Linked DNA regions of Homo sapiens: region 1 is linked to region 2. The links come from fine-mapping of genetic effects on gene expression. A gene starts in region 2. The other region holds a variant in brackets. All regions are shown on one strand. Distances are between the middles of the regions. Region 1 overlaps DBNDD1 (dysbindin domain containing 1). Region 2 holds the start of DEF8 (differentially expressed in FDCP 8 homolog).

Region 1 (4,231 bases), 54 kb after region 2:
GCAAAGCAGCTGCGGAATCTCACCCAAAACAAATTAAAACGTGACAACTGTGAATGGGTGTTTTAGATGAGGGTGCTCTGAGCCCACATGCAGGGAGTAGGAGTGGGAGTGGGCAGAGGGGGTACCCTGAGTCCCTGGGCCCTCCCGCTGGAGGACAGTCGGGTCCAGGCTTAGACGGGAGAGGCCCCAGGGCTCTGGCCCCTGTGGTGCTGAGGAAGGCACGACTGTAGCTTCGAGAGGGGCTTGCGTGGGACACCTTGGAGACACCAGGCCTTCCTGGGGCCTCCGTGGAGGAGCGTTGATATGGTCATAAAGACACTCGGAGGAGCCTGGGTCCAGCACAGAAACCCTCACCGTTTGGTAGAATTCAGAAGAGGAGAACGTCAGCCAGGCATCAAGGGGAAGTCAGGGTTCTAAAGCAGCTGTTTGGATCGGTAGAAGCCGATCTGCTGTTCTGTCCTTAGAAAGGAAAAAGCCCACACCACCCACAGGTGCATGGCTGAGGGAGGAGGTGGAGCTGTGGGGCCTCACACCTGGGTTCCCCATCAGGGCACCCCCCGCCACCCCTGCCTGCGCCTTGGCTCTGTGGCAGCACTGCTGAGTGTGAGGGAATTGAGTTGCTTAGAAAACCTGGCCCCTGTCCTTGGCTGGAGGTGCTTTCACTGCGGGATGTGTCTGGATCGTCAGTTCTGTTCCTGTGACCCCTTTTTGTTGGAGTCTTGGAGCGGGAAGCTCTGCAGGGCCCCAGCCGGCTCAGGGGTGTTTGTGGAGAGACTGTGGTCCTGAAGCCCCAGCACGTGGCTGCCCCTGGCCCTGGTACCTGTTCGTGAACACTTTTCCTGGGGTTGGGTAGCTCCTAATTTTTATTAGGAAGGCCCCTTCTGGGCTCTGAGCTTCAGGCCCTTTGGCGCCTTGTACTGAGGGAGGGTTTGCTTTTTCTTGTCTGGGGTGTGTGGGACTCGATGAGGATGCCCCGTGTGCTTTCTGCAGCACACGACCTGCCTCCAGGACTCGCTGGGGTCAGCAACAGCAGGGCAGTGTCAGCCTCAACCACTGCCTTGGGGTGGGTGGATGCGTGTCTAGGTCACCTGGGATGAGACCTGGGGAAGACGCCCATTTGCATATGTCCTGGGTGAGCGGCCGGAGGAGGAGGCCCTGCTTGTGGGTCAGCTGGGATGGGACCTGGGAAGATGCCCGTTTGCAGATGTCCTGGGTGAACAGCGGGAGGAGGAGGCCCTGCTTGCTGCCCCGGGCACTGTTTGTTCTCAGCCTCTCTCTCGACCTAGGCCAGATCAGACACTGGGGCTTTGTAGTATATTTTATAAATCGCTTGTTATGTTGGCCTCGGAGCCTCAAAAATATAATTTCCAACTGGGGGTGAACACTTTCAACTTTTGCTGTTTATAAAATGCATATCATTGGACTCAAAAACTCTCCAGCACTCAACCTTCATCATGGCCTCCACCAGACCCAGAGTAGCTGAGCCCCTTGGGGTCCGGTTGGGGCCTGGTCTTAGGTCCCTCAGATGGAGGTGGGGGTGCTTCCTCAACCCCAGCAGGCCCTGTGACATGGCAGCATCGGTGGCCTCCGGGATGCAGGGTGGTCACGGGCTGTGGAAAGTCATGGCCCTCGCTCCACCGTGGTTCCCTCCAACACCCCGGGAGAGCCTGGGTGTCCCTCTTGTCACCTCCCAGACGGCTGCACGTGCCTGGGGTCCTTCATGATGATCTGGGCGTGGGATCCTTGTGCCTCCCCCACTGGGCTGTTCCCTCCAGACCTGTGTTCTCGGCGCCTGCCTTCACCCTCAACTTTTCAGGGCTGTCAGGCGCCTTTCCCGCAGCCTTCCCGCACGTATCCTTTACAAGCCGGTCCTTATGTAACTCTGGAGCCATCTCACCCCCTGAATCAGACACACTATTTTCCGTGGTCTTTTCCCAGCTGTCCTGAGCATGACCTGCAGTTTGCCTCATCAGCCTGTCGATGGTGGCTCAGCTGCACCTTTGCTGAGAAGCACCATCGGCCCAGCAGAGTGACACCTGCGGGCACTGCTGTCTGTGCTGTAG[C/T]GGTCTGTGCACCCTGCAGGGACACGAGCCTTCAGCCCCTGTATTTCTCAGCCTGCCTGCCTCCCTCCCTCTGCCAGAAGGGAAGGTGGAATGGGGTGGAATGCGTGTACCTGCCAGTAGCTGTGCACCCTTCCCAGAAGATACATCACTGACTGAGGCCGTTTCTGGGTCCATGGTCATAGGACACCTTGCTGAGAATTTTCATGTAGGGGAGGTCCAGGCTTCTCCCCTCAGAGCCCAGCACGGAAACACACAGAGACCCGTGGGCCTGGCAGAAGGCATGTCAGCCCTGGTCAGGCTCCATGGCCACCCCATTTCATGAGTAATGACAGTGGGCAGGAGTTTTGGCCTCATCTGGTACCTCCCCAGGACCAGTGCCAGTGGCCTCTGGGACAGGAGTGTGTTGAGAGCGACTCCGTTGCTGGGGAGTGAATCCCTCCCCTGGCCTGGGCCACCTTTACCACCACGTGGGGTGGGATTCTGTGACTCCCTCCCCCGGCCTGGGCTACCTTTACATGCACGTGGGGTGGGACTTCTGTGACTCCCTCCCCTGGCCCGGGCCACCTTTACGTGCACGTGGGGTGGGACTTCTATGACTCCTTCCCCCGGCCCGGGCTACCTTTACATGCACGTGCGGTGGGACTTCTGTGATTCCCTCCCCCGGCCCGGGCTACCTTTATATGCACGTGGGGTGGGACTTCTATGACTCCCTCCCCCGGCCCGGGCTACCTTTACATGCACGTGCGGTGGGACTTCTGTGATTCCCTCCCCCGGCCCGGGCTACCTTTATATGCACGTGGGGTGGGACTTCTGTGACTCCCTCCCCTGGCCCGGGCTACCTTTACGTGCACGTGGGGCGGGACTTCTATGACTCCCTCCCCCGGCCCGGGCCACCTTTACGTGCACGTGGGGCGGGACTTCTGTGACTCCCTCCCCTGGCCCGGGCCACCTTTACGTGCACGTGGGGCGGGACTTCTGTGACTCCCTCCCCTGGCCCGGGCCACCTTTACGTGCACGTGGGGCGGGACTTCTGTGACTCCCTCCCCCGGCCCGGGCCACCTTTACGTGCACGTGGGGCGGGACTTCTGTGATTCCCTCCCCCGGCCCGGGCCACCTTTACGTGCACGTGGGGCGGGACTTCTGTGACTCCCTCCCCCGGCCCGGGCCACCTTTACGTGCACGTGGGGCGGGACTTCTGTGACTCCCTCCCCTGGCCCGGGCCACCTTTACGTGCACGTGGGGCGGGACTTCTTTGACTCCCTCCCCCGGCCCGGGCCACCTTTACGTGCACGTGGGGCGGGACTTCTGTGACTCCCTCCCCTGGCCCGGGCCACCTTTACGTGCACGTGGGGCGGGACTTCTGTGACTCCCTCCCCTGGCCCGGGCCACCTTTACGTGCACGTGGGGTGGGACTTCTGTGACTCCCTCCCCTGGCCCGGGCCACCTTTACGTGCACGTGGGGTGGGACTTCTGTGACTCCCTCCCCTGGCCCGGGCCACCTTTACGTGCACGTGGGGCGGGACTTCTGTGACTCCCTCCCCTGGCCCGGGCCACCTTTACGTGCACGTGGGGCGGGACTTCTGTGACTCCCTCCCCTGGCCCGGGCCACCTTTACGTGCACGTGGGGCGGGACTTCTGTGACTCCCTCCCCTGGCCCGGGCTACCTTTACGTGCACGTGGGGTGGGACTTCTGTAACTCCCTCCCCTGGCCCAGGCCACCTTTACGTGCAACGTGGGGCGGGACTTCTGTGACTCCCTCCCCCAGCCTGGGCTACCTTTACATGCACGTGGGGTGGGACTTCTGTGACTCCCTCCCCCAGCCTGGGCTACCTTTACGTGCACGTGGGGCGGGACTTTCACTTCTTTAATGATTCCTTCTGTTGTGTGACTTTGGGACTGGAAATCCAGGTCACTCATCCCCCACATGTGACCCAAGTGAGCACAGCAGAGCCCTCAGGCTGCTGCAGCTGGAGAATGGTCCGGGCACGGAGCCCAGGGCAGCTCAGCTCACAACCCCTCAGCAGGCACCTCGTTCACTCTGCTATTGGAAAGGAAGAGACTGTGGCCAGGCCTTCGAATGCGCAGTGATGCTTTAATCCCCCTGTTTGCAAACGAGCTCTGTGGAAGCTCAGCAGGAAGGATGGAAAGATGGGGAGGAAGACCCTGGC
Region 2 (4,503 bases):
GTTGGGGAGACGAGCCAGGAGGTGAAGGTGGGGGTGGGGGTGGGCCTGGCCTGTTGGGGAGAGGAGCCAGGAGGTGAAGGTGGGGGCCGACTTCTTCCCAGGGTCCCTCTCACTGCCAGGCTGAGGATGTACTGTGGGGCCCAGGTGGGAGCTGAGATGGGGAAGGCCTTTCCAGAAGGAGGAGCTGGGAGAGAGGCCAGGTGGACGTGGAATCTCTAGGACTGGGGACCTTGAAGCAGCAGATAGAGCGGCGGCTCAGGGCAGTCTCCCTCCAGGTCTGAGTGCATGGAGGGACACGGCGTCCGAAGCCACCCTAAGCTGGGGTGGAATCTCACTGCACCCTTTCTGAGCGATGTGGCCTTGGGGGGGCCGATGGAGTTGCCTGTCCTGTAGGTGACTGCTGGCCCCCAGGCTTCCGTAGGGTTAAATGAGATGGTGTTGGCAACACGCCCCCCAAAACCTGGCCATAAACTGGTCCCAAAACTGGCCATAAACAAAATCTCTGCAGCACTGTGACATGTTCATGACGGCCATGACGCCCACGCTGGAAGGTCGTGGGTTTACCAGAATGAGGGCAAGGAACACCTGGCCCACCCAGGGCGGAAAACTGCTTAAAGGCATTCTTAAGCCACAAACAATAGCGTGAGCGATCTGTGCCTTAAGGACATGCTCCTGCTGCAGGTAACTAGCCAGACCCATCCCTTTATCTTGGCCCATCCCTTCGTTTCCCATAAGGGATACTTTTAGTTAGTCTAATATCTACAGAAACAATGCTTATCACTGGTTTGCCGTTAATAAATACGTGGGTAAGTCTCTGTTCGAGGCTGTCAGCTCTGAAGGCTGTGAGACCCCTGATTTCCCACTCCACACCTCTCTATCTCTGTGTGTGTGTGTCTTTAGTTCCTCTAGCGCTGCCGGGTTAGGGTCTCCCCGACCGAGCTGGTCTCTGCAAGGTGGTGTGTGGCTCCCACTTGGGAGGCCTCCAGTTACTGGCACTGTCATCACCATGCCCACTGAACAAAGTGGACCAAGCCCCAGAGGCAGCCAAAACCACACCTTTCTGCAGGGAGGGTAAACTGAGCCCGCGAGCTCAGGGCAAGCGCACCAGGCGCATATGCTGGCCTTCATCTGTCCTCAGCTCCTCCCTGCGGGCACAAGCGGGGGCAGCTGAATCTTCCACGCGAGAAGCCTAAGAGTAGGGATACGGGGGCGGGGAGCAGCAGGCCTGCTCTGTGTGTAAACAACGGGAAAGCAGGAATAACGCCAGGGCCCGCGGACACCAGCTGCCTCCGAAGTCCCGCTGCCCGGCGCCTGCATGGAGCAGCCTCCTGAGCGCAGTGTGGCGCGTCCTCCTGTGTAAAGAGGGTAGAGCCGCGCCGGGTCCCTCCCTCTGCAGCCGTGAAGCCCCCGCGGGGCCCTGCAGGTGGCTGGCGGCACCTGCACACGGTGGTTCTCTGTTCCTTTTTCCTCCTCAACCACTGAGGTTAAAAAAAGTGTTAAAAGCCACCCTTTTTGTTTTTTTGAGACGGAGTCTCGCTCTGTCGCCCAGGCTGGAGTGCAGTGGTGCGATCTCGGCTCACTCCGAGCTCCGCCTCCCGGGTTCACGCCGTTCTCCCGCCTCAGCCTCCCGCGTAGCTGGGACTACAGGCGCCCGCCACCGCGCCCGGCTAATTTTTCGTATTTTTAGTGGAGACGGGGTTTCACCGTGTTAGCCAGGATGGTCTCGATCTCCTGACCTCGCGATCCGCCCGCCTCGGCCTCCCGAAGCGCTGGGATGACAGGCGTGAGCCGCCGCGCCCGCCCATTTTTTTTAAACGTGTTGGGGTTTGGGTTTCAGCCACAGGCCTTCTGCGATGAGAGGAAACCCAGGACGCGCAGCCCCAGGTCAGGCCCGCGGAACAGCCGGGCGGACTCCGGGGCTCGCAGACTCGCGACCCGCGTGCCATGAACCTCCGCGCCGGAGGCGGCAGCAGCGAGCGCGGGGCTGGATCCAGCGTAGCGGGGCGGCCGGGCGGATCCAGCGCAGCCGGGAGACAGATGCGAGGCGGCGGTCAGGTGAGCGGCGCGGGGCCGGCGGGGTCGGGGCCGGCGGGGACGGGGCCGGCGGGGACGGGGCCGGCGGGGACGGGGTCGGCGGGGTCGGGGCTGGGAGGGACGGGGCCGGCGGGGACGGGGTCGGCGGGGACGGGGCTGGGAGGGACGGGGCCGGCGGGGACGGGGCCGGCGGGGACGGGGCCGGCGGGGTCGGGGCTGGGAGGGACGGGGCCGGCGGGGACGGGGTCGGCGGGGTCGGGGCTGGGAGGGACGGGGCCGGCGGGGACGGGGCCGGCGGGGACGGGGCCGGCGAGGTCGGGGCCGGCGGGGACGGGGCTGGGAGGGCGGCCCGCCCGGCGCAGGGGCCTCGAGACCTCGGCCGCCCCACCCCGGGGACGCCGCCGCTGCTCCGGCGTCCACACCAGCTGCGTGCGGAGCACCCGGGCGGCTCAGGGGACCCGCGTGGCCGTGCCCCCGCCCTGGGCTGCTCCGAGCCTCAGTTTCCCCCTCGGTGGAACGGGTGGGTGGGAGAGACCTGCCCCCGAGGAGCCCGGGAGACCGGGCGAGCTCCCGCGGGTGTGGTGGGTGGGGAGGCACAGTGCTGGGGTGGCTTCTCCCTGCAGCAGGTGCCGAACCCACGGCCAGGCTTCCGTGGCCAGCAGCCCTAGAGGAATGGCCATCCTGTCCCTGCGAGCCCCTGGGCCCTGGCAGGCGATGCAGGTATGGGCAGACAGGACGCTGTTGACTCCGCACACCGGGGTGACTTCTCAGGTTCTCGGGGTGGCAGCTGCAGTGATGACACCGCTTCCTGGTGGTCACGCCGCGGGCAGGACGCGGGAGGCCAGGTCCGTGCATCCCGCGTGTCCTGAGCTTCGGCCCAGGGTCCCTCCGTGCCCCGGAACCCCGCCGGCTTTCTTCGGCTTCCTTTCATTGCTAAGTTGTGGGGTCCTCCCCGATGAGAGCAGTGGGCTCTAGAGGAGGGGCAGGGGGTGGCCAGACCTCTTGCTTTCACTCTTCCACTTCCTGCCCGCTCCTTTCTGAGGCCAAGTCCCACATCTGGGTGCAGAACTGGTGGGGTGAGCCTGGTGAGAGGGGCAGGCTGGCGTTCTGCTCAGAGTCGGCCACTGTGGCCGGCATCCCCAGGTCTGTGTGAGCAGAAGCTAAGGCTGCGAGGCCAGCGGCCTCCCCTCATTCATCCCCTGCCCGTGCGCCAGGCCTGGGGCTGGCACTGACTGTCAGTAAATAGGCAAATAAAAGATGCCTTTTTTCACAGCCCGGAGGAGAGCTGGTAGCCTAGAGTACAGCTGCTGGGCAGAACGGAGGTGTCCCTGCCAGCGTGCCTTCCTTGACGCTCCTCTGGCCATGTTTTAAACACCAGGAGGTTTCCAGCGGCTTCCCCAGGCGTAGCTCCTGCACCTTTTTCCTGGGCTGGTCACCATATGTGATGACAGTGCCAGTCTGTTCTGAGCAGCTCTGGGCTCCTGGCTTCACTGACATCATAAACAAGTCCTTAGCCCTTCCATCCACCCCAGAAAGTAGGTGTTCCCCCTGATTTATAGGCAAGACAATGGAGAACCAGAGTCTAAATCAGGGCTGATTTTTTTTTTTTTTTTGAGATGGAGTTTTGCTGTGTTGCCTAGGCTGGAGTGCAGTGGCACAATCTCGGCTCACTGCAACCTCCACCTCCCGTGTTCAAGTGATTCTCCTGCCTCAGCTTCCCAAGTAGCTGGATTACAGGCATGCACCACCATGCCCAGCTAATTTGTTTGTGTTTTTAGTACAGACGGGGTTTCACCATGTTGGTCAGGCTGGTTTGAACTCTTGACCTCAAATGATCCACCCGCCTCAGCCTCCCAAAGTGAGCCACCACACACCGGCCATGATTCTTAAAAATAACAGTAATAGGCCAGGCATGGTAGCTCACACCTATAATCCCAGCAATTTGGGAGGCAGAGGCAGGAGGGTTGCTTGAAGCCAGGAGTTTGAGACCAGCCTGGGCATCAGAGTGAGACTCCGTCTCTACAAAAAGTTAAAAAAAATTAGCTGAGTGTGGTGGCACACACTGGAGTTCCAGCTACTTGGGAGGCTAATATGGGAGGACCCCTTCAGCCCAGGAGTTTGAGGCTGCAGTGAGCTGTGATCGCACCACTGCACTCCAGCTCGGGTGACAGAGCAACACCCTGTCTCAAAAAAAAGTAATAATGATAAATTATAATCAATATTTATTGGGTGCTTACTATGTGCCGGCCAGTGTTCTCTGAACTTAGTATTAACTACTTTAATCTTGACAATAACCCTGTATGGTACTATTGTAATCCCCATTTGAGACATGGGAGAATGGAGGCAGAGAAACGTTTATCCACTTACCCAAGGTCACACAGCTAGGAGCTAGCAGAGTTGGGATTCAAGCTGGACGTGTCTGTCTTGTTACCATGAAACTATTGGGATCATCAGTCAGAATCTTTTCTT

What was found. PIP is the estimated chance that this variant, and not a neighbour inherited with it, causes the effect. A credible set is the group of variants that fine-mapping cannot tell apart.
Region 1: its variant is the best candidate, but not a certain one, in a credible set for the expression of DEF8 in esophagus muscle (GTEx, PIP 0.79).

Annotation. Positions count from the first base shown.
Region 1 is chr16:90,000,736-90,004,966 of GRCh38, forward strand. DBNDD1 (dysbindin domain containing 1) reads right to left here. Exons shown (of 4, transcript NM_001042610.3): 4 at 4,136-4,231. It also overlaps the pseudogene AFG3L1P. Among named protein-coding and RNA genes, the nearest start is that of DBNDD1, 17 kb to the right of the region's middle. The variant C/T (reference allele first, on the strand shown) is at 2,064.
Region 2 is chr16:89,946,760-89,951,262 of GRCh38, forward strand. It overlaps DEF8 (differentially expressed in FDCP 8 homolog), which reads left to right and starts at 1,996. Exons shown (of 13, transcript NM_001242818.2): 1 at 1,996-2,055; 2 at 2,658-2,754. RefSeq lists an enhancer at 1,006-1,345 and a silencer at 2,026-2,125.